3 separate regions of the Homo sapiens genome follow, and regions 2 and 3 are each linked to region 1. Evidence: fine-mapped QTL for protein levels in blood plasma. A gene starts in region 1. Each other region holds a variant in brackets. All regions are shown on one strand. Distances are between the middles of the regions.

The links. PIP is the chance, under the fine-mapping model, that this variant and not a neighbour inherited with it causes the effect. The UK Biobank Pharma Proteomics Project read protein levels with antibody pairs (Olink). The fine-mapping took linkage between variants from a reference panel, not from the people measured, so its PIPs are less certain.
Region 2: its variant is fine-mapped to the plasma level of the AFM protein (UK Biobank, PIP above 0.99).
Region 3: its variant is fine-mapped to the plasma level of the AFM protein (UK Biobank, PIP above 0.99).

What each region holds. Positions count from the first base shown.
Region 1 is chr4:73,477,751-73,486,370 of GRCh38, reverse strand. It overlaps AFM (afamin), which reads right to left and starts at 4,626. Exons shown (of 15, transcript NM_001133.2): 1 at 4,508-4,626; 2 at 2,382-2,430; 3 at 1,981-2,113; 4 at 298-509. The coding sequence starts at 4,595.
Region 2 is chr4:73,044,834-73,053,453 of GRCh38, reverse strand. COX18 (cytochrome c oxidase assembly factor COX18) reads left to right here. Exons shown (of 6, transcript NM_001297732.2): 6 at 1-1,092. Among named protein-coding and RNA genes, the nearest start is that of COX18, 21 kb to the left of the region's middle. The variant A/G (reference allele first, on the strand shown) is at 4,063.
Region 3 is chr4:73,387,300-73,395,919 of GRCh38, reverse strand. No RefSeq gene overlaps it. Among named protein-coding and RNA genes, the nearest start is that of ALB, 13 kb to the left of the region's middle. The variant C/T (reference allele first, on the strand shown) is at 3,844.

The DNA of each region.
Region 1 (8,620 bases):
TTATTTCCTCTACTGTGCATCCTACCAATTTAACACCATGTACACACCTCTGCTCTAGGACTTACCAATTAGAAGATAAAATTCGTTAATATAATGGTCTTGTAAGCAGGGTCCATATCTTGATCATAGTTATATCCTGAACACTGAGCACAGTATCTGACACACAGTATGTTTTGAATGAATGAAACAATTAATCAATAAATTAATGAACCCAGCCATATTTATTTGAGATAGATATTAGATTCAGCCTAAGACTAATTCTTCAACTGGATCATTTTTTACTAAGATTAAACTTACTGATTTAAAAGGGATTCTCTGTTACTTTCATAAGCCTGGCATTTCTCTTCGGGATCCAGGGTAGGGAAAGGAGGCAGAAATCCCACATCAGATTTCTTGTTATAGAAGAAACAGAGTCTTCTTTGAGCATCAACCTTACTGCAGCAGTGTGAGAAATTATGCTTTTGTGGCAGCCCCTCCATAGCACATATTTTTTCCTGTAAAACATTATTCTATACAACAGAGAAGAAAAGGACAATTTTTAGTCATGGTAAAGTAAAGCTTCTGTACTCACTGAGAAAACACAATGACTAATTTTCCCACCATTACCAACAGAGCTCCTTCTCTTTCTCCTACTCCTCTCCTTCCCCTTCCCCTTCCCCTTCTCCTTCCCTTCCCCCCCTCCTTCTCTTCCACCTCCTCCTCCTCCTCCTCCTCCCCTTCTTCTTCTTCTTCCTCTTCTTTTTCTTCTTCTTCTTCCTCTTCCTCTTCCTCTTCCTCTTCTCCTTCTCCTTCTCTTTCTCCTTCTCCTTCTCCTCCTTCTCCTTCTCCTTGTTTTCTGCTTCTTCTTTGGAATGGGATCTTGATATGTTGTGCAGGCTAGATTCGAACTCCTGGGCTCAAGTGATCCTCCAGCCAAAGTGTCCTAAATAGCTGGGAGAACAGGTGTGCCAAATCAAAGCATTTTTACCCAAACCCTTGACAATCATCCTGCACTTTCAGAATCTTTGTTCCTCTGTCTTGTCACAAGACACTTCCACCTCTTACTCTTCCCTTGCTGCCTACATTTCCCTTCCACCAGGCTTTTCTACTCACCTCCCAAGGTGATGACATGCTGGTATGTTAATGTATTGGTAGAGTGTTTAGAAGTAGTGTTTAGTAGTAGTTTTTTGGAGATGCAGATAGTGATTCTACTTGGAGGAGGCCCAGAAAAGGGATGTAACAATAGAATACATATTGAGAGAGGCAGCTAAGGAGGTACCTCTGTAATTTCATGTGCAGTTTCAAGCTATGGCTTCCTCTTCTGCCTGAACATATAGGGCATACTGTATACATACTGCAAATACACAGCAATCTCCTTCTGTGCATCAAAATACAGAATTAGTATCTTTTCCAAGGAAAGTACCTTGTTCTAAATACCAAAATTAAGCAAAATGAAAATGCTGCGCACAGAACATCTTTCATTTCATATTTTCAAGCCAGAAATTTTCTCAGTGTTGGGCAAAAAATCTTGTGTGTTTAAGAAACACAAGCAATTGGCAGGGCACAGTGGCTCACGCCTGCAATCCCAACACTTTGGGAGGCCAAGTTGGGAGGATCACTTGGGGTCAGGAGTTTGAGACCAGGCTGGTCAACATGGCAAAACCTCATCTCTACTAAAAATACAAAAAAATTAGCTGGGCATGGTGGTGCATGCCTGTGATCCCAGCTACTAGGGAGACTGAGGCATGAGAATTGCCTGAACCCAGGAAGTGGAGGTTGCAGTGAGCCAAGATTGCCACTGCACTCCAGCCTGGGTGACAGAGCGAGACTCTGTTTCAAGAAAAAAAAAAGAAGGAAAGAAAGAAAGAAAGAAGAAAGAAAGAATGAAAGAAAGAAAGAAAGAAAGAAAGAAAGAAAGAAAGAAAGAAAGAAAGAAAGAAAGAAAGAAAGAGAAAGAAAGACATAAGATAAAAGGAAAAGAAACACAAGCAATTTACTTACAGGTAATTTTGAACACTCTGGGAGCGTCTTGTCAGCCATACATCTGTCTTTGTATTCTACCATGTCTTTCACCAGCTTTTCCATTTCTTCAAAGGTTGCTTCCTGAACATACTGAGCAAATGCAATGATGGTGCTGCAACAGTTCACATGGGGTATACAAAGATCAGTTGCAGAGTTTCCATTTATGGTCAAGAAAAAGTCACAGGAACATCCTGACTAGCCTCAGGAAATTATCTATTGTAATGGCTATAAATTTTACAACTTCTTTGCCTGAATTTTATAATTAAAGTTGTCTTCTTGGATATGGCTTCTATTTAGTTAAATTACTTTTGAGAAGCATTAACATTTCTAGAATATATCATTTTAAAAATCATCATCAAAAAGTATTTAGCACAACTCACATGTATTCAATATTATCTTCTATAAATTTTTGAGTACTATTGAAGTTCTCTGAAAAGCAAGAATATTTAGGTTATTACATAGCATGGTTTTCTAACATTTTTCAAATAAATAACTATACATGGCATTTAAGTGTATAAAATACAAAATAGACCACTGATGACAGGAGATAATTTTGCATATTTAACAAGAAACAAATAAGTCATGTGAACAAAATAGGAAATCTTAGTCATTGTTGATTATGTGTTCAAGAAATATTTACCAAATTGAATTGACCTAAATAAATCTTAATCTGACTAGACTTTAAATTTGCCATTGATGGCTCCCCAGATAGAAATGTCAAATACATTACCATGCTAAATGTCTATCATTTATGACTAGAGAAGTGATATGAAGATTAACTAATGGCTGATTCAATGCCATAACAGAGCCTGATGAGAGATGCTGTAGCATGCTGGTGGTCAGCATAGTTTTTAGCGCTACTCAGTCACAGCTATTTAGGTCATCTCCAGATCCACCTAAAATCATGGATTCCCTCCCAATGAGCATACACTAATTGGAGCATATTTATGTTTGTTCACATAAGCTACATTTATTTTTTGCAAAGTGTTGTGCTGGACCCTGTGAAGCAATCAACAATGACTAAAATATCTCCCCTTGACATCAGGTTCCTAAGCTGCTCTCTAATAGAAGTTACTCGTGCATGTGACAATAATCTAATTTAGAATGGGATTAAGTTGGGAATGCTTTATGAATCCTGGGTGAGAAAGAAAGAAAAAAAAGGATTATAGGAGGAGTGAGATATGAGTTGAGCATGAGTAAATGTAAGAGATTCAGCTGACGGAAAAATGAAAAACCCTGTCTGTCTGTGTGGAGAGAGAATGATGTGAATAAATGCATTAAGAAATCTTGAGAAGTATTTAGGGAAAGTCAATCTATTTTGATGAGAAAGTGGGTCACAAAGAGGAATAATGGTACCTAGGATAGAAAGAACCTGGGCCCAGATTATAGGAGTCTTGTATATAAAGCTAAGGAGTATGGGCTTCATTTGGAAGACATGGAGAGCCCTGGAAAATGTTTATATAGGATAGTAATCTGATCATTTCTATACACTAAGAAATACGAGTCAGGTAGTGGTATATGTAATGTCATGGGACTTTCCACAGTGCCAGACAAATAGAAAAAGGTAGAAAGAACTATTGTCAAATAAATGGGCAAAAGAAGGGTGGATGGGACAAAGTAAGAAGGCCATAGGAGACTTTGCAACTGTCACACTGAGAAATCAGCAAGATCTAAATTTTGGTAGGAGTAATGGAAATGAAAAGGAAAATATAGATACAAAAGATATTAAAGAGGCAAAAAATCAAGATTTTGAAACAGGTTGTTACGAGGGAAAAGGAGCAGGAAAACTCAGAAATGACCAGTCTTCACTAGCTGGTATTGTAGGGGCATGTCAAATTGAGTAAGACACGTAAGACACGATCCATGCCTTCAGGGCCACTGCCATGCTTAGGGCACATTTGTTCAAGTCAAAGAAAGGAGCTCCTTCTAGGCCAAAAAGGATTAGAAAAAGACACCTCCTCTAGACATATGAGGTTCAAAATATTTCCCCTTTGGATGGAAGAAATAAAAAAAGTCATCCCTTCCTACAGACTGAGATGGCCTTGGCCAGGCTCAGGAGGGATGTTCAAACTGTACAGTTGAAGGAGGAACTAGGTTCTGCATTCCATAAAGATATAGTTGGGAAATATGTTGGACAACCAAAGGTTCCAGAAAAATCCCAGTTAACATCTATTGTTCCACTGTTACCATAAACTATACATATATGCAAGAAATACCAACATTAAAATCCAAATGTATCTCCCAGCAACACTTTCTGTCCTGTCATAGACTGCTGATTATTCTTCAGATGTGACAACTCTTTCTTCATATAGACTTGGTAATATAAAAATTACCATCAAAATAAAAATTCTGAAAAGGTTAGTTTTGGATAACTGGTTAGCCTATGTAAATTAGTGAGAGGGTGAAAAAAGCAAGTAAAGAATTAACTTGAAAGAAAACAAAATTTTAAAAATAGAAATTATCCTAACTGGTCATGCTTTAGCTGATATACAAGTAAATTTCTTACCTATATCCCGAGGTTGTGTGGGCAGGGTTAGGGATTCAGTCAAAAAAAACAAGAAAAAAATAAAACCTGTAAGTTTTAGTAGTTTCATCTTTGTAGAAACCACATTTACAAAAGAAAGTAATGTTGTTGAGGAAAATCAAGTTTTTATATCATTCTTTCACATTATCAGTAAAAAAGTAACCTATTTAATCTATTTCTGAAATACTGAGTATTTGATTTTTTTGATCACTCTGCAGAATTCTTGCTAAATATTAACCAGAAAAAAAAATTACCTTTGTGTTTCGCTGGAAAAAATCTACTGAGTTGGAACAAAAGTCCACAGGCTAAGTATGCACAATACTTAATCAAATAGACAACCAAAAAAAAACTTAAAATACTGCAAATGTTAAAGGAACAAAGGGCCAGAACAGATATAATCAAGCAATCTCTCTTATGCATATATATCCAAAGGAAGTGAAATCAGTATCTCAAAGATATATAAATATGTACGCCTACTATGTACTCACAAAAATTAAAAATAAAAAATTAAGAAGATATACCTGCACTTCGGTGTTTATTACCTCATTATTCACAATAGCCAAAATATGAAAACAACCTGTCAGTCAACATATAAAAAACTAAATAAATAAATAAATCTCACACGCACACACACACACACACACACACAATGGAATACTATTTAATCTTTAAAAAGAAGGAAATTCTGCCATATGAGAATATGTGGATGAACCTGGAGAACATCATGTTAAGTGAAATAAATCAGACACAGAAAGAAAAGCACTGCATAATCCTACTTATATGTGGAATCTAAAAAATCAAACTAGAAACAGAGCATAAAATGGTGGTTATCAAGGGCAGGAGGTAGAGGAAATGGGGAGATGCTTGTCAAAGGGTGCAAAGTTTCAGTTACGTAGAATGAGTAAGTTCAAATGCATCACATGGACTACAGCTAATAATACTGTATTGTATGCTTAGAATATGCTAAGAGACTAGGTCTTAAGAATTCACACTGTCTTAAAAGAAAAAAAAATAGATAACTGGCTGGGCGTGGTGGCTCACACCTGTAATGCCAGCACTTTGGGAAGCCGAGGCAGGTGGATCTCTTGAGGCCAGGAGGTCAAGACCAACCTGCGCCAACATGGCAAAACCCTGTCTCTACAAAAATTAGCTGGGAGTGGTGGCATGCGCCTGTAATCCCAGCTACTCAGGTGACTGAGGCATGAGAATCACTTAAACCTGGGAGGCAGAGGTTGCAGTGAGCCGAGATCGCGCACTGCACTCCAGCTTGGGGGACAGAGCAAGACTCTGTCTCAAAAATAAATAAATAAATAAAATACGTCAAGAGACGGATGCGTTGATTAGCTTGGCTGTAGTACTCAAGTCACTATGTATATGTATTCAAAACATCATCTTGCACGCCTTAAATATATATATTTTTTATTACCTTTTTTTTTGAGACAGTCTCACTCTGTCACCCAGGCTGGAGTGCAGTGGCGTGATCGTGTCTCACTGCAACCTCTGCCTCCCGGGTCCAAGCGATTCTCCTACTACAGCTTCCTGAGTAGCTGGGATTACAGGTGCACCCCACCATGCCAGGATATTTTTTGTATTTTTAGTTGAGATGGGGTTTTACTGTGTTAGCCAGGATGGTCTTGATCTCCAGACCCTGTGATCCGTCCACCTCAGCCTCCCAAAGTGCTGGGATTACAGGCATGAGCCACCACACCAGGCCTTTAAAGTAAAAAGAGTTTTTTAAATGCAATGGAAGCCGATGAGAACTTGATAATTAAAATAAATAATTACTGGAATATATTATAACACAGGAATTTTTTTAAATTCATGAACCTATACCAATACAAAATTAAAAATTGGGAAAGGAAAGTTCTTCTCTACAGAAGAATGCCAACTAATAATTGTAGTTAGAAACAAAGCATAAACATTTGTAACCACCATAGTAATAGCTGATTTAGGCCAGTTTCATGAAAGAATGATAAAGTCATAGGTGAATAATTATTGAGGAATAGCATATTTATACTTTCAAAATATCACTTCACAAGTCACTCATTAATTTAAAAGTGCAAAACACATCTTTGCAGGTGAATACATAAACAATGATATAGTCACTCTATGGATTCTTATTTGTCTTTAAATCTAATGAATATTAAAAATATGTCATATCAGAGGAAATATTTACTAAATGACTTTTGGTAAAACAGTAGAATACAAAATTTTATATGTGATGTGTAGAAAATGGCAGGGTGGACAGACTCACTAAACCAAAGAAAGGGAATGAGAGAGATAAAAGAGAGACAGACAGGGAGACTGAGAGATCGATTTTGTCTCCAAACAGAATTATGTAACAGTATGGTCAGCATCTTTGCTTGCAGTTAGTGAAATGTCCTAATTGTGCTGTCCTCTCATTGTTGCCTCTGTTCTAATTGCCTTTTGTCAGATGATTAAAAAGACCAAAACTGTTGCTAAGTATATTCAATTGGTAGTCAGAGATCCATTCACTTTTTATTTTCTTCTCAGATATGGTACTTCTTATTTCCAATTACTGGTTGACATCTGGCAAGTAGAAAATAGCTCTAATTCATCTATTCCACAAATTTAGTCCTCCCTACCATTAATAAGCATGGGATATTTTTATGGCCATATGAAGTGAAATAGCAGTATGTGCCTACTTAGAAACTTAATGTATTTAAGCTAATTTTCTTCCTGGTTATTTTGTGTATTTGCCTCAAATGATCTAATTACTGACCCCTTCATTAATGAGTAAAGTATTTTTAAATTTTCTTCAGTAAATACGTCAAATTTTGCTTCAACAGTATACATACATACATACATACATATACATCCATACACTGAAGAAAGAAAGAGAAGAAGCCAGCAGTATATGAAAAGCTTGAGAAAATCCTGGAAACTATAAAACAGATGGAATCAAGTTAATGGAGAAAATAGATAAGAGCAAGCTTCAACCCAAATCTTGGGAGATGACATTCATTCTTCCCAAGAGCATTCCAGAACTGTTTCAAGTCTAAAGAACATAAAGAACCGATATGGGCCATGGGGAAATAATCAGGAGAAGAAGCTAAAACCTTATATTCTGAACAGCTAAATTAGGACAGCACATTACTTCCTCCTCTCTTTCTCTACCACCACACACAAATATATAACATACTTGGGTAACAATGTTTGATATCTTTTACATCTAGGTCAAAATCCAAAAATGACTCTTTCTTAGTTTGGATTTCCCAAAAGCAGACCTCTAGGGAAAGACTTGTACTTTATATGGAAGGCAACTGGAGGAGGCACAGTGAGGAAGTAGGACCAAAAAGGGAGAAAAGCAGCCAATAATTCAGGTGTTAATGAGAACAATAATAGTGTAGGCAACTGGGATGTAAGCTTGTTCAGAACTGTCTGGGAAGTGGAAGATGCCCTAGAATCATCCTGACAGAGGACTGAGAGGCTGGGCCATTATTCCATTAACTGAAGACTACATGAGCAAGAATAACAATCAAGACTAATCAGATATACCTGAGCAACAAAAACAATAATTCATAATTATTCATAATTCAGGAAAAAAGAAAGCTATTGAGGCACACATTCTAAAAACATCATAATAGTTAAAACAGTGTGATGATATGGGCAATATGCAGATACAACAAAATGAAAGTCTAACATTTGATCCAAATTTTAGCCTATCTGTACAGTAATATACTTCTAAAAAGATCAGAGATCCAAATGTAGAAATTAAAAAAAGAGAAATTATAGAAGTACCAGAAGAAAGATAAGTGATGAGGGAAAAACTGTCCTAATTATAATGCAAAATAAATTCAACTACATAAACAAATTTTTAAAGACTTTGCATGAAGATTTGGCTGGGCAAGACTTCCTACTAGACACAGCCAGGTGGAACAGCCTTCCCTGAGGGACTGAGATGACTGGCACACTCCTAACAGATCTTCAGGGGGAAGGCACTGAGAGTGGACAGAGGAAAGACACAGAAGCTGGGCTGAAGTGGGAGGAAGCCGAGAACCCTGCATGGGGTTACTATGCACTGGGACTCACTCCCAGACCCCAACAACTCTGGGGGAATGGGTGAGTTGAACT
Region 2 (8,620 bases), 430 kb after region 1:
TCTGATTGGTTAAGTACTATGGGATTACAGTCTTCCCAGACATCGCGTAAGTTTCATTATCCCCCTTGTAAGGTTATATACCCCATTCCCTTCCCCCCTTAAGTTTTGATTTCCCAATAACGAAACTTTCTTCCCTTTTATGGGCTGACTCCTCCTCTACATTCTGTTCGTTTATTGTGACCTTCTAGGTGCATGAGCAGTGCGGTTTGTTACATACCAAGGCTGGCTGCCAGTGCTTAGATTTATCATGCCTTGAAAATGGACCATTTAAAATGTTTTCCCACAGTTCACATCTCAGAGGAGGTACAGAGGTCCTCCTAGATGACATTGGGAAAATTGTAGTTAGTGTGAAAAAATGAGTGCCCAAAAAAACCTTGGTACCTTCTGTGTTTTGTTCCTATTTTTTTTTTATTGGACGCATAATCTGCTTATATTTTGCACCTATTCTTAAATCACACTTATACCTTCATATTTTATTCTTCTAAGAATCCCAGGAATCACCTTTTTTTTTTTTTTAGGAGTCACCTTTAAAATTGCCTATATGTCAGATTTAAGTCCCAGAAGCAGTAGGAATGCAGACCCTAGAAAAAAAATTAAAGAATGTAGTTTATTTTTTCCTCTGGGGTGTTAACTGCAGCTACTACAGAATGCAGACTTTGGAATTTCAGGCATAACATCTGAAACCATGCAAGAATTTAGATTTCTGTATTAAAGCTAAATCTTCATGTAAATATGGTGTAAAACAATGCATTATCATTATAAACACTGTGCCTTACGAGCTGGTTCAAGCAGAACCCAGATAATTGGAAATTATATGAATTTATAGATTTTCCATTTGAACCTTATTAGTGTTGTTTAAACTTGTAATAATGGATATTTTCTAGTTATCTGTTTTCTTTTTTTCATACACTGTGATGGTATTTTATGAAATCATTTGGTTTTGGGAAGTTGGAATTTCCTAAAGCCACAGCATTAAAGTCAGATAATTTTATTTACCCAAAAGTTTCTGGAACGCTGTGGTTCTGTACTGTGTATACAACTAAAATAAGAATATAAATTTATATAAAAATAAAAATACAACTATATAAGTAAGAATTTGATCTATGTACAGTTTAAGCAAAGCCCTGAAGACCCTGAATTTACGTGTATTCTTCTGCTAGTGATATGGAATATGAAGATTCAATATCTCCTTGATAACTCTTAAGAAAGTAAAAAGCGAATCGTTGAACCCAGGAGGTGGAGGTCGCAGTGAGCCGAGATCACGCCACTGCACTCCAGCCTGGGTGACAGAATGAGACTCTCTAAAAAAATATAATAATAATTAAAAACTACTAGTGTGATGCAGCTAATGCTAAGTGGGAGAATCCCTTAGATGGGTAAACCTTGATGGTACGGTTTGAATGTCTTTTTCAAAACTCATGTTGGAACTTGATCTCCAGTGTGGCAGTATTGAGAGGCATGGGGCCATTACATGGTGATTGGATCATGAGGGCTCTCTTCTCATAAATGGATCAATTGGCTTATGGATTAATGGGTTATAATGGGAGCAGAGCTGGTGTCTTTACAAGGAGAGGAAGAGAGACCTGAGCTAGCACTTAAGCATGCACATCCCCCTCACCATGTGGTACCAGGCACTGCCTCAGGGCTCTTCAGAGTCCCCACTAGCAAGAAGGCTCTCACTAGTTGTACCCCCTTGATCTTGGGCTTCTCAGCCTCCATAGCTATAAGAAATAAATTCATTTCCTTTATAAATTATCCAGTTTCAGATATTCTGTTAAAAGCAACAGAAAACACTTAGTATAACGAAACAAGATTAAGTTGATCTGAGAACCTTATAAAATTTAAAAGTTCATAGCTTAGAAAAAGCAAGTAATCCCAGCACTTTGGGAGGCCGAGGCGGGCGGATCACGAGGTCAGGAGATCGAGACCACGGTGAAACCCCGTCTCTACTAAAAATACAAAAAATTAGCCGGGCGCAGTGGCGGGCGCCTGTAGTCCCAGCTTACTCGGGAGGCTGAGGCAGGAGAATGGCTTGAACCCGGAAGGCGGAGCTTGCAGTGAGCGGAGATCGCGCCACAGCACTCCCGCCTGGGCGACAGAACGAGACTCCGTCTCAAAAAAAAAAAAAAAAAAAAAAAAAAAAAGAAAAAGCAAGATAAATTTAAAAAGCTTGCTCTTTGAAAAGCTTTGCTAAAGGATTTAGCAAATTTTAAGAACAATTACTGAGTATATGACAGTATATTTTAATCTTAATAGAAATTAAATCATAGGTGAAAAATTAATCAGCAAGAGAGCATGCGTGTGAATCCTGTTTATAATTATGTATTCAACATTCTAGATGGATCACATAGTTTCAAAATAAAATTGTACATAATTTTGAAGACAGCCATTTGGTTTTTTGTTTGTTGGTTTGTTTTTGAGTGGCGCAATCTTGGCTCACTGCACCCTCTGCCTCCCAGGTTCAAGCGATTCTCCTGCCTCAGCCTCCTGTGTAGCTGAGACCACAGGCATGCACCACCATGCCCAGCTAATTTTTGTATTTTTAGTAGAGACGGGGTTCCGCCATTTGGCCAGGCTGGTCTCAAACTCCTGACCTCAAGTGATCTGCCCACGTTGGCCCCCCCCAAAGTGCTGGGATTACAGGCGTTAGCCACCGCACTGGGCCTATTTGAGTGCTTTTTATCATCTCAAAATAGAGTAGACCCTCCTCTCTCCACACCTGAAAGCCATAATGTTGTAAGAGCTTCTAAATGACAGCTGCTAGGATGCCAACGAATAAAGCAAACTGAAACTGAACTAAACTGTTCATCAGGTAAGGACTAACAGCCACAGAGAGGGAGCTATTGGGTGACTCGTGAACAACCAATAGCTGAACCAACCACTGAAAACCATTAGTGGAATACAATCCAAAAGCAAAAGGAATTATTAGAAATTTTGAACTTTATGTAGTAATTATATTGCTGTTAATAATGCATTTTTAAAAAACTTTTAGTAAATAATTATGTTTAGTAGGTATATTAGTTTGCGCTGCTTATTACCACCAAGAGAAAGATATTGAAGAAATCTATTGGAGATATTTTACATCTTTTTGAAAATTTTCTTTTAAGATTGTGGAAATTAGGATCAACCCAAAGCCAAAATTTTGATAAACTAATTTTTTAATCTGGCTTTAGAGATTGCCCCTAAGGAAAAGGATTAGTTCCACCAAAAGAGGATCCTCTTTCTCCACAGTTCTCTATCCCCATGCTCAGAAAGCCTAGCCTTCATATCTGTTTCAACTAAGTCCCTCCACAATCCCAATTAAGAACTATATATAAGGCCGGGTGCGGTGGCTTACACCTGTAATCCCAGCACTTTGGGAGGCCGAGGCGGGCGGATCACGAGGTCAAGAGATGGAGACCATCCTGGCCAACATGGTGAAACCTCGTCTCTACTAAAAATACAAAAATTAGCCAGGCATGGTGGCACGTGCCTATAATCCCAGCTACTTGGGAGGCTGAGGTAGGAGAATTGCTTGAATCCGAGTGGCAGAGGTTGCATTGAGCCAAAATCATGCCACTGCACTCCAGCCTGGGCAAAAGAGTGAGACAATGTCTCAGAGAAAAAAAAAAAAAAACACTACGTATAAAAGCATTTTGATCCTGGTTGATATACATCCATAGGAACCACAAGGTTGGCAGGGTGCAGTGGCTCACTGCCTGTAATCCCAGCACTTTGGGAGGCTGAGGTGGGTGGATTACTTGAGGTCAGGAGTTCGAGACCAGCCTGGCCAAAATGGTGAAACACCATCTCTACTAAAAATACAAAAATAAGCCAGGTGTGGTGGCACATGCCTGTAATTCCAGCTACTCAGGAAGCTGATGTAGGAGAATCAATTGAACCTGGGAGGCAGAGATTGCAGTGAACCAGGTAACTCCAACTGCATTGCATTCCAGCCTGGACAACAGGAGTGAGACCCTGTCTTAAAAAAAAAGAACCACAAGGTCTGGCTGATAGCACAAGAAAAGGAAAAACAAATAGCAGGCAAGGAACAGCTAGAAAATTTTCAAGTTTTGTTAATCA[A/G]CTATATTAAAACTAAGGAAGCACTTTCCTAACAGGCCTTGCCTACTTCTCACAACACTAAATTTTTGGAGGGCTGTAACTTGAACTTGAGGGAGACAAAACTTTACCCAAAGCGTGAGTAACAGAGGGACCATGTTTCCTTGTGTTCTACAACTGACTACCTTCTTTATTGACCGGTGTTTAGGTAAGTGTTGCAAGGTAGCCTTACTTTCAATTGCCTAGTCCTATACTGCTGGTTTTGTTTTATAAAATAAGGACTTTTTTTGTGTTTTAGAACAAACGCATCAATGGAAAGACCTGAAATAAAAATCAGTGCTTCAAGAAAGCAACCTCAACCATTCCTATTGAATTATTCTAAGGCAACAAAAGATAAATTTCTATCCTTTGTTTGTTTGTTTGTTTGTTTTTTGGAACACAGATTTTCACTTGGTCACCCAGGCTGGAGTGCTATGGTGCAGTTTTAGCTCACTGCAACTTTGAATTCCTGGGCTAAAGCAATCCTCCTGTCTCAGCCTCCTGAGTACCTGAGACTACAGGTGCATGCCACCATTCCCAGCTAATTTCTAAAATTTTTTGTAGAGATGGAGTCTTGCTACATTGTCCAGGCTGGTTTTGAACTCCTGTTCTGGCCCCAACACCTGGCCCAAATTTCTATCCTTGAAGATCTCTGCTAGAATTTCATTAGAAAGAGGCCACTTTGGAAAATGACCAATTTCTCTTTTCCATTTTGAGATTTCACAGGCATGCTTCCCTCTCTTTGTACCTCTGATGAGGCAATTCTTAATACATTTGTTTTGCCTTAACTGGGAATTGGGAAGGCAGTATTGTATTTAATTTAGCTTTGATTTTTGTCTTTTGGGAAAATTATAGCTCTGCAGGACAACATAAAAATGGAATATGAAATATACCTTACTATATTCATTTGATAGCATTTGTGTTTTTGTATATCTGCATGTTCCAACTGTTGCACAATTAATAATTTGAAGAATTTTTTTCTAATTATAAGCTTCTGTGAAAGGGCCACATGCACAAAGCAGCCCCCAAATGCAGAAGGACCCAAGGAACCAAAGAACAAGGCAGACAAAACCAGTTTGCAGTAAAGGATGATTTACTGGGGAACTTAGAGATGGAAGCATGGTCTTGGGCAGCAGCAAGACAGGTAGGCCTCTGCATCAATACTCCCCAGACCCAGGGCTTTTATACCATAAGGAAAGGGTGTACATGCTGTATAGAGACAGTTAAAGGCAAACCTCCAGAAGAGGCAAGACTGCTATGTGGTCATAGCCTATAATTTGTGTGATAACATCAAGGTTGCTTGGATCTAATGGCCGGCATGTTCTTACACTAAGGACAGTAAATAAAATAGGACTCAGGAGGCGTCTTTAGGACTGGGGTTAATTAGAAGTCAACATGGCAGATTAGCATCCAATATAGAGTCACTTTTATTGCCACAAACCTCAAGTTTCCTGGATTTTCAGTGAATGATGGATGCCTCTGAGGGTGGACATACTAAAAATATAAAATCTGTACCTATAGGGAGAATTTGCAGCTTCTTCTATGCTATTTAAAATTTATTTCGTGGGCTGCTAAAAGTAAGAAATTTTCTTCTTGTAAAGTTTATTATAGAAGCTTCAGTTATGCTTATCAATATTGTTTTTGAGTACAGATGTTAAATGTTCTGTTTTGTGGTCCAAACAAAAACAAGTTCCCATTTAAAATTAAACTCGCAACAAAATACAATCTTAAAATGAAATATCTTCTTCCTCATCTTTATTTCTAATCCCCTCCCCAACAGAGAGAAAGACTTACAGATGAATTATTGGAACTTATACTCTATATCTATGTGATAATGTGTTATTTTACTTAAAATGCAGTCAATCCTCATTATTTACATATTATAGGAGTGAGTTATAATGCTGTTGGCTGTGAGTTCCATGTTAATGAATTAATACATAGCTTTGTTCTTTGTGTGTTTCTATTTGAAGACGTTAATATATACATATATGCACATTTATATGTATAGTATCTATGTATGTTTATTTTATATACAGGCATACCTTATATTGCACTTTGCTTTCGTGTGTTTCACAGATATTGTGCTTTTTACACATTAAGGGATTGTGCCAACCCTGCTTCAAGCAAGTCTATCAGCCCCATTTTTTCCAGTATCATGTGCTCACTTTGTGTCTCTGTGTCACATTTTGGCAACTCTTGCAATATTTCACACTTTTTCATTATTATATCTGTTATGGTGATCTGTGATCAGAGATCTTAGTGTTTATTTTTTTATTTTTTAAAATAAACTATATATGTATATATATTTTTTGTAGCGATGGGGTCTCCCTATATTACCTGGACTGGTCTCCAAGTTGTGGCCTCAAGTGATCCTGCCACCTCAGCATCCTAAAGTGCTGGGAATACAGGTGTGGGCTACCATGTCTAGCTCGATCAGTGATCTTTGATATTACTATGATCATTGTTTTGTGGTGTCATGAAACATACCCCTATAAGACTAGTGAACTTAATCCATAAACGTCGTGTATGTTCTCACTGCCCCAGTACCGGCCATTCCCCCATCCCTTTCCCTCTCCTTGGGCCTCCTTATTCACTGAGACATAACAATGTTTAAATTAGGCCAATTAATAACCTTACAGTGGACTCTTAAGTGTTTAAGTGAAAGGAAGACCGACATATCTCATTTTAAATCGGAAGGCATGTCAAAACCCAAGATGAACTGAAAGCTAGACCTCTTGTGCCAAACAGCCACATTGTGAATGCAAAGGAAAGGTTCTTGAAGGACATTAAAAGTGCTACTCCAGTGAATGCACAAATGACAGGAAAGCAAAACAGCTGGATTGCTGACATGGAGAAAGTTTTAATGCTCTGGATAGAAGTTTAAACCAGCCACAACATTCCCTTAAACTAAAGCTTAATCTAGAGCAAGGCCCAACTCTCTTCAATTCTGTGAAGGCTGAGAGAGGTGAGAAAGCTGCAGAAGAAAACTTGGAAGCCAGCCGAGGTAGGTACATGAGGTTTAAGGAAAGAAGTCTCCATAACATAATAGTGCAAGTGCAGCAGCAAGTGCTAATGTAGAAACTGCAGCAAGTTCTCCAGAGTATCTACCTAAGATGACAGATGAAAGTGACTACACTGAACAAAAGATTTTCAATGTAGATAAAACAGCCTTCTAGTGGAAGAACGTGCCATCTAGGATTTTGATAGCCAGAGAGGAGAAGTCAATGCCTGGCTTCAAAGCGTCCAAGGACAGGCTGACTCATACTACGGACTAATGCAGCTGGTGACTTTCAGTTGAAGCCAACGCTGATGTACCATTCTGAAAAATCCTAAGCCCTTAAGAATGATGCTAAATCCATTCTGCCTGTGCTCTGTAAATGAAACAACGAAGCCGGTATGACAGCACATCTCTTTACAGCAGAGTTTACTATTTAAAGCCCATGGTTGAGACCTCGTGCTCAAAAAAAAGATTCCTTTCAAATATTATTGCTCTTTGACAGTGTACCTGCTCACCCAAGAGCTCTGATGGAGATGTACAAGGACATTAATGTTTTCATGCCTGCTAACACAGTATCCATTCTGTAGCCCATATATCAAGGAGTAATTTCAACTTTAAGTCATATTTAAGAGATACATTTTGTAAGGCTAAAGCTGCCATAGATAGTCATTCCTCTGATGGATCAGGGAAAAGTACATTTAAACCCTTCTGAAAAGAATTCACCATTCTTGATGCCAAAAAGAATATTTGTGATTCATGGGAGGAAGTCAAGATATAAACATTAACAGAAGTTTGGAAGAAATTGATTCTAATCCTCATGGGCGGCTTCAAGGGATTCAAACTTAAGTAGAGAAAGTCACTGCAAAAATGATGCAGAAATTGCCACAGCCACCCCAACCTTCAGCAACCGCCACCCTGAGGAATCAGCAGCCATCAACATCAAGGCAAGACCCTCTACCAGCAAAAAGATTACAACTCACTAAAGAGTCAGATGATTGTTAGCATTTTTGAGCAATAAATTGGGGTTTTTTTGTTTGTTTGTTTGTTTTTTGCTTTGAGACAGAGTCTCACTCTGTCGCCAGGCTGGAATGCAGTGCCGTGATCTCGGCTCACTGCAACCTCTGCCTCCTGGGTTCAAGCGATTCTCCTGCCTCAGCCTCCCGAGTAGCTGGGACTACAGGCACGCACCACCACCCCTAGCTATTTTTTGTATTTTTAGTAGAGACGGGGTTTCACCATGTTGGACAGGATGATCTCGATATCCTGACCTCATGATCTGCCCACCTCCACCTCCCAAAGTGTTGGGATTACAGGCATGAGCCACTGCCAGCCACAATAAAGTATTTTTAAATTAAAGTATGTTCATAGTTTTAAGACATACTGCAATTGCACATTTAATAGAGTCCAACATAGTGTAAACATAACTTTTATATAAATTGAGAAACCAAAACATTTATGTGACTTAATCGTGATATTCAGTTTATTGCCCTGGTCTGGCAATTACTTTTCCATAATTACCTCTCTTTGTTCAACCTAATATGTAAG
Region 3 (8,620 bases), 90 kb after region 1:
TTACTCACCAGGGCACTGAGGCCAGTTTGGTTCAGGCTCTCACCAAATCACACCTGAGTTATTACAATAAACTCTGAATTAATGATCATATTTCTAGTCCCTATCTACTCTGATTAATACCAAAACTTTCCTCTCCTTAAGATATTTTATTGGTTCCCCATTACATTTTAAATAAATGCCAAGCTTCTTGCTTTGGTATTCAAAATGTTCTGTAATCCATCTGGACAAGGTGGCTCAGACCTGTAATCCCAACACTGTGAAAGGCCAAACTGGGAGGATTGCTTGAGCCCAGGAGATTGATACTAGCCTGGACAATAAAGTGAGATCCTGTCTGTACAAAAATAAATAAATAAATAAATTGCCCAGATGTGGTGGTGCACACCTGTAGTCTCAGCTGCTCAGAAGCCTGAGGTGGGAGATTTCTTGAGCCCAGGAGTTTAAGTCTGCGGTGAGCTATAATCATGCCACTGCACTCCAGCCTGGCAACAAAGCAAGACCCTGTCTCCAAATTTAAAAAAAAAAAAAAAAGCAACATACTCTGTAATCTGATTCCACTAGTTTATAATGTCCCTGAAAGCAGAAGCTCTGTCTTTCTCCATCACAGCAGTATCCCCAGTGGCTAGCAGATGACTGGCGCATGTGTGTTCAATGTCTGTTAAACAGGTGAGTAGACAAATGAACAAATATGTGAAGAAATGATCTCCATAATATAATCTGTTATTCTCTTTCATGAATAAATTTTCCCATTAACTCAGTTATACTCCCTGTAACATTTTTTGCAAGCCTACAAGGTATTAAATGCCATACTAGATGAGAAGATGTGCAAGGTGCTATGAGGCCATCTTCCTTTTTCCCAGGGGGTCATGTTCATTTTCAGACACAAATCTCTGCTTATTGGGCTTTCTCCCACCATGATGATTTCCCCTGCTTTGTATCTATCTAAATCTTCCCATCTCCAGAGCACACCTCCAGACCTTCTCTTTTCCCAGGCTTACATTCTTCTCACTGTCTTCTGATGACCTGTATTACTTTGTTTTCATTCTTAGTTACATCTCTTGAATTTATAAGATTTTATTAAATTGTAATCATTTTATAAGAGTAAACATTTTCCCTATTCACTGTATTCTTTACAAAATCTCAGTTCAGTACTAGACAGTAGATAGTAATTAAACCTATGAATTAAATTCAGTGAGTAAAAAATTTCCAAGTGATTGTATTATGAAAAAACAAAGATTGCTATATCCCCATCTCTAGCAAATTTAAGATTCACATAAGTAATCACATACATTCCCAGCATGTAGCAAGTGCTCTATAAATATTTGTTGACTGAATGAATAAATGAATAAATAAATGAACAAATAAGCCACTTCCAGTCTGATGTCCATCAACTCCTTGATATCCATGAAAGTACAGTAAAAGTCCATGAGTTTGTTGCCAATAGTAGTTGAAAATAACAATAATAGAAATTTTGCATTTATTCATTATAAAGCTGCAAACACTAAAATCTTAAGTGTATTTATTTTGTATTAGAACTATATTAACTCTACTGAATCCCTGAGTGTGTGAGGGGAAAGAGGACAGCAGGGGATGCCCTGTTTGTTTAACAAGCACTTATAAAATGCCTTCAAACATGCCAGTCCCTGTTCTCAGCAGCGCTTTACCAGCAGTGGCATATTTGCTTCTCTGGTACTCTTACTAGAATAGCATTGTCATTATTGCATTTTACAATTGAGGAAACTGAGGTTAACATAAAGTAGCTAAGATTAAGTAACTTGCCCAAGGTCAATAGCTAGTGAACAAAACAGCAAAGAGGCATTCAAGATATATATATCCTATAATGCCTTTCAAAAAATTAGGACAACTATTCTCTGATAGTCCCTCAAAACTATTATTATGTTGACAAAGCTACATTCATTGCTATTGGCAATAGAAAATTTGGGAGAGGAGGGAAATTGAATTGCGACCTGAGATGAGGGTGTACCCTTTTTGTCTGGTGCTTTATTATTTGCTTATCTTAAATAGGCTTTCTAAGTGTCATAAGGGCTTCTTTGTACCTTTCCTGTAACCCACAGCAGCAAAACAGATCATTAGTACATGGGGCAGTACATGCCGAAGAAGAAAACAGACACTGGCAACCATGTTGGGAATGAGAAACATCCATGACTAGTTCTAATTTCAGAGTCTCACAATAAATCCAAGATGAAATCTACTATTTCATATTGCTTTATTCTACCATTTCTTTTTTCTTGAGACTGAGTCTTGCTCTTGTCACCCAGGCTGGAGTGCAATGGTGTGATTCCGGCTCCCTGCAACCTCGGCCTCCCAGGTTCAAGCGATTCTCCTGCCTCAGCCTCCTGAGCAGCTGGGATGACAGGCCCCGCTAATTTTTGTATTTTTAGTAGAGACGGGGGTTTCACCATGTTGGCCAGGCTAGTCTTGAACTCCTGACCTCAGGTGGTCCACACACCTTAGCCTTCCAAAGTGCTGGGATTACAGGCGTAAGCCACCGCATCTGGCCTATTCTACAATTTTTTAAACAGCCACACAAAGCTTTATTTTATATTTTAACTGACATTCTTTTTACTTATTACTTCATCACTGCTAGAAAACAGGTAAAAAGAATACTCTTTAAAACACTTAAAGTCTTTCTAACCTACACCAAGTTCTGCTCTTCTGGGAAGATTAGGTTTGAATTTGTTTTTGGTTTAGCTGTACTGATGATTACATCTGTGGAATTTGTTTAAAGACAGATGGTTGCTCAGATACAAAACTGCTGGATTAAGCAGAAGCAGAGTGAAGTGGAATGATAAATACAAAAATGCAAGCCATGTGAAGGCAGCAGTCAGAATAAAACCAGGTATTCATGAGAATGAGAGTCTTTCCAGTAATTACCTAGAGATTTTCTGGGTGAGATATACAGTCACTTCATAGAACTACCGCTGCACATTTTTATCTATTTCTTATTTATTCACCGAGCTCACTCAAATGAATATCTAGTGTCTGTTCTATTTCCCACATATTTCTAGTGTCTGAGCTAGGTACCACATGAAATATTATCGTGTATTGATTAAGAGCACTAGTTTGGAATTAGACTTCTCAAGTTTGAATACCAGCTCCACTTCTTACTAGTTGTGTGGGTAAGGTACTTCAACATGCTATGCCTTGATTTTCTCTCTTGAGAATAAATAATAATCTTAATTTATGGGGTAGCTGTAAAAATTAAATTAGTTAATGCTCATCAAGTATAAACATTGCCTGCCTCATATTGACACTCAGTGAATTTTAACTAGTGTTATCATTAATGCTATAAGAAAAAGCAGGGGGGACAAGCACAGGGTCTTACTTCAAAAGTGTTCAAGTGAAATTGCAATTACAAATATGCATGCAAGCGCACTTAACTAATAAGGCAAAGGTATTTGGCTAGCCATGAACTAACCCACAGAGACTCTATGGTTGTTCACGCAGGAAGGAAGAAAGATCTATGGGTCCAAGTGGTTAGAGATGTGACTTAACTAGGTCTTAGAAAATGGGTACAACTTGGACATTTTGCTATCCTCATTATTCAAACCAATCCAGTATTAAGAGAATAGAAAAGAATCTTAGGCCTAGAAAAGTCCTTAGAGATCATTGGTTTCATTCCCTTTGTTTTACAGATTAAAATATAAAGGCCAGTTAACCAAACCATCAGCAAATTTTTTTGATTACTTACCGTGTGCCAGTCTCTATTCTAAGTGCTGGGGATTCAACATTGAATAGACTGTACATATTCTTTGACCTGAAAGAGTTTACATTCCAGTGCAGAAGACAGCAAATTAACAAGTAAATAAATAAACCTTCCATGTA[C/T]TGATAAGTTGAAGATGATAATAAAATCAGGTACTGAGAGTGAGTATGATAGTGAAGGACTACAGCTTTCCTGAGGGTGTCAGAGAAGGGCTGTCTGAGGAAGTAACACTCTCATTGAGATCTGAATGCTGGTAATAGCATACAAAGTGGTCAGCAGTGGTCTGAATATTCTGAAAATGTTTTCATTCTGAATATGTTTTGTGAGTAGCACTGCCAGTAATTACTGAAAAATTAGGTGTGAAATGTAAGAAAGAAAAAGATTCAGTAATGACTCAGGTTTTGACCTAAACAACTGAGAAAATGTTGTCACCATTTACGGAAATGGAAAAGACTGGGAATGGGGGGTACATGGAAAGGGGGAAATGGGAGGATATACACTAGGCTTAAGGAAGGTAGTTACTAGTTCTGTTTGGCCTTGTTAAGTTTGAAATACTTGTTAGACATCCTGGTAAAAATGTGATGTTGTGTAATATATGAATCTAGAATTCAAGGGAGGACTTCTGGCAAAGGATAAAAATTCGAAAAAAATTAGTACATAGATAGTATTCAAAGAGATCATCTGATCACCCAGGAGGAAAATGTAGACAGGAAAGAGATGAGTGCTGAGGGCGGAAACTTCCATTCTACATTTAGAAGTCTGAGGGTGGAGGGGAGGCCAGAGGAAGCCAGTGAAAAGGAGAAGGTGAAATGTAAGAGGAAAATCAGGAGCATCTGTGATGTACAAGTCTAGAAAAGTAGACTCAGACACTTATGCAATGTAATGTTGCTGGTTAGCAGCAGAGTTAGGAATGTTATTATTATTCTATAACTAACTTATAAGCACTTTAAAGACAGCAGGGGCCATAAATTCCCAGTTATTTTATTTATTTGTCACCAACAGTACTTAAGAGAGCTAAATATATGGTGAAACATATGGGGCAAACTCACTAAGTTATTATTAATTGGTCATACATATATGAAACAAAATAAAAACTAAGTTTACCTTGATAGGAAAACTTAATTTGAATTTGTTTTCAGTTTCCAGGCTTCCATTTTTACTTATTTGCAGTCCTACTGAGTTCCAAATTAATTTTTTTTTTCTACTATCACTTGGTTATCCCCATGAACCATTACTGGATAATCACATCACACTCTGATTTAGAGACATAATACCTATCTTGGTGATATATATATTGGTGCCTATGTATCTTGACACTAAGATTTAAATAATCTGTGCAGAGAACAAGATAGATTTCCAGTTGTGTTTGATTTGGACAAAGAGTTAACTCAAAATCTTTCTTGAGATTTTACATTGTTTTAAAAACAGTTTTACTGGTTAGGCATATGCAGAAACTCCTTACATCTTATACAAAAATTAACTCAAGATGGATTAAAGACTTAAACGTAAGACCTAAAACCATAAAATTCCTAGAAGAAAATCTAGGCAATACCATTCAGGACATAGGCATGGGTAACGACTTCATGTCTAAAACACCAAAAGCAATGACAAGAGAAGCCAAAATTGACAAATGGGATCTAATTAAACTAAAGAGCTTCTGCACAGCAAAAGAAATCATCATCAGAATGAACAGACAACCTACAGAATTGGAGAAAATTTTTGCAATCTATCCATCTGATGAAGGGCAATATCCAGAATCTACAAAGAACTTAAATAAATGTACAAGAAAAAACAAACAACCCCATCAAAAAGTGGGAAAGAATATGAACAGACACTTCTCAAAAGAAGACATATTTGCAGCCAACAAGCTATTAAAAAGCTCATCATCACTGGTCATTAGAGAAATGCAAATCAGAACCACAATGAGATACCATCTCATGTCAGTTAGTATGGTGATCATTAAAAAGTCAGGAAACAAGAGATGCTGGAGAGGATGTTGAGAAATAGGAATGCTTTTACACTGTTGGCGGGAGTGTAAATTAGTTCAACCATAGTGGAAGACAGTGTGGCGATTCCTCAAGGATCTCGAACTAGAAATACCATTTGACCCAGCAATCCCATTACTTGGTATATACCCAAAGGATTATAAATCATTCTACTACAAAGACACATGCACACATATGTTTATTGTGGCACTATTCACTAGAGCAAAGACTTGGAGCTAACCCAAATGTCCATCAGTGATAGACTAGATAAAGAAAATGTGGCACATACACACCATGGAATACTATGCAGCCATAAAAAGGATGAGTTCATGTCCTTTGCAGGGACATGGATGAAGCTGGAAACCATCATTCTCAGCAAACTACCACAAGAACAGAAAACCAGAAACTGCATGTTCTCACTCATAAGTGGGAGTTGAACAATGAGAACACATGGACACACGGAAGGGAACATCACACACCAGGGCCTGTCAAGGAGTTTGGGGCTAGGGGAGGGATAACATTAGGCGAAATACCTAATGTAGGTGAGGGGTTGATGGGTTCAGCAAACCACCATGGCAGATGTAAACCTGCGTAACAAACCTGCACATTCTGCACATGTACCCCAGAACTTAAAGTATAATTTAAAAAAAGAAAAAAAAAACAATTTTAAGCCTTTGTGAAGCACAAAAATATTAATATGCACATTAATTCCTTACACGGATTTTGCAAATTAAAAGCAAAGACACACCAAAAAAATCTCTAATCTAAGATAGGAGACTGTGATAGCTTAATAGAATAATAAGCAATATGTACTTCCATTCATTCATAGTACTTTCAAAATTTAAGATATAGAAGATCCAACACCTTACACTTTAGAATCGCCTCTGATCATAGTTCATTTCTGTTGCCTAAAAAATATGCCCTGTAGAAATCCTTCAATATATTAAAGAATAAATGTATTTAAATATTTTTAAACTGTAATATCAGCCCATCCACCACTTTGAAGGCCATTGACCTTATGTTTACACTTTAATCCTTTACCACTGATAATTTGCAAAACTCAGGCAGACAGCAAATACTCTACAACTCTAATCAACAAGGAGTGAACTATGTCCATTGAAAAGTATACTCTGAGCAAATGAATTACAGAAAGTCTACACAAAAAAAATGACCTTCAAGAACTAGCCTATCTCTGGGAGAAGGAGAAATGCTGAGTCTGGCATTTGTGTATCAACTGGAGATTTCATGGGCAGAGAATCAACAAATGAGTCTCATCATTCTGTAATGCGGTTGACAGTTTACAGCTCTAAAACCTGCAATGATTAATATAATAAAAGAATCATTCACTTAAATATGACAGTGATCTAATTTTGGGAAATACTAAAAATATATTTTATTGTTATATCCCACATACTCTGCTGAGCCCATTTTTAACACATTGGTGGACAGACATTTATAAGAAACAATATGGTGAAATAAAACTCAGGATTATAATGTCAGTTTTCTACAGTCCCTGGGAAAATTACTTTACCCCTTCCAATGTGAAAAAGTCCTTTAAAAATTGCAATGAGTGTCATATTACACACAAATTCGAAAATGATTTCAGGGACAGTGCTTAGAATAGTGCTAGGTGCATAGCAGAAACCTGCATATAAATGTTAAAACACGTCGGCCACTAGGTCAGCCACTAAACTCGGGGTGAGTTACTTTTTGGTGTCTCAGTTTACACTACAAATACAGAAGATAATATTTACTATGTATAATTCATACGTTTTTCTGATATTTAGTACTAATTGTTTTTCAAAATGAATTAGGGCTCATTGTTAAATAATCCTCATTTATCATTCAAAAAATAGTGTCATGGTAGAGAGCATTTCTCTGAAGATCCTTAACTTCTGTTTTAATATGACATAAAAATGCCTTTGATTAATACAAAAATACAGTTAAGTAGAAGAACAAATTCTAGTATTTGATACTACAGTAAGAAGTGAATCATAATTTATATTTCAAAACACCTATAAGAGAAAAATTGTAATATTCCCAACACAAAGAAAAGATAAATGTTTGAGGTGTTAGATATCCCAATTATCCTGATATGATGATTATACCTTATACACACATATCAAAATATTACATGTACCTGAAAAATATGGACAACTAAGACATATCGATTGAAAAAAATGTCAAGAAAAACCCTCCGGTTTGCTTTATTTTATAGGATTCCCAAAATCTTTGGGGTTGACACTGCCATCACTGTCATCTGGATGGTTACAAAAACACACAAACTGAAGCCAACCCAACCCCACAAAGTAAAATAAATATTAATAACTATGTGATGGGATAACATTTCTTGATCTAGTACACTCTCTTTTTTTCTTTAGAAAATGTCAATTTTTGTCATCAACCTGTTGAGTCATTGTGTGCTAAATGCTTTGGAGGAGGGAGGTAAAGGATGAAAAGCATGAACAAAGGGTTTCTTTTTTAATGTTAGTTTCTAAAACCTAAGCTCCTAGAGGAACTGAAAGCATTCTTGACATAAGCAGAATGTTTGGGAGAAATATTTGAGAAAGAGAAAAGGATCTGAGAAGATGCTAGAAATAATCTATCAGGATGGGGAGAAAAAACAGATGTGGAGGAAAGTAATAAGAATATGATCTCTGAAAAATTAACTCAAGATAGATTAAAGATTGAAACATAAGACCTCTAACTATTAGAATCCTAGAAGAAAACCTAGGAAATACCATTCAGGACATCAGCCTTAGGAAAGAATTTATGACTAAGTCCTCAAAAGCAATTGCAACAAAAACAAAAATTGACAAGTGGGACCTAATTAAACTAAAGAGCCTCTGCTCAGCAAAAGAAACTGTCAAGAGAGTAAGACAGCGTACAGAATGGGACAAAATACTTGCAAACT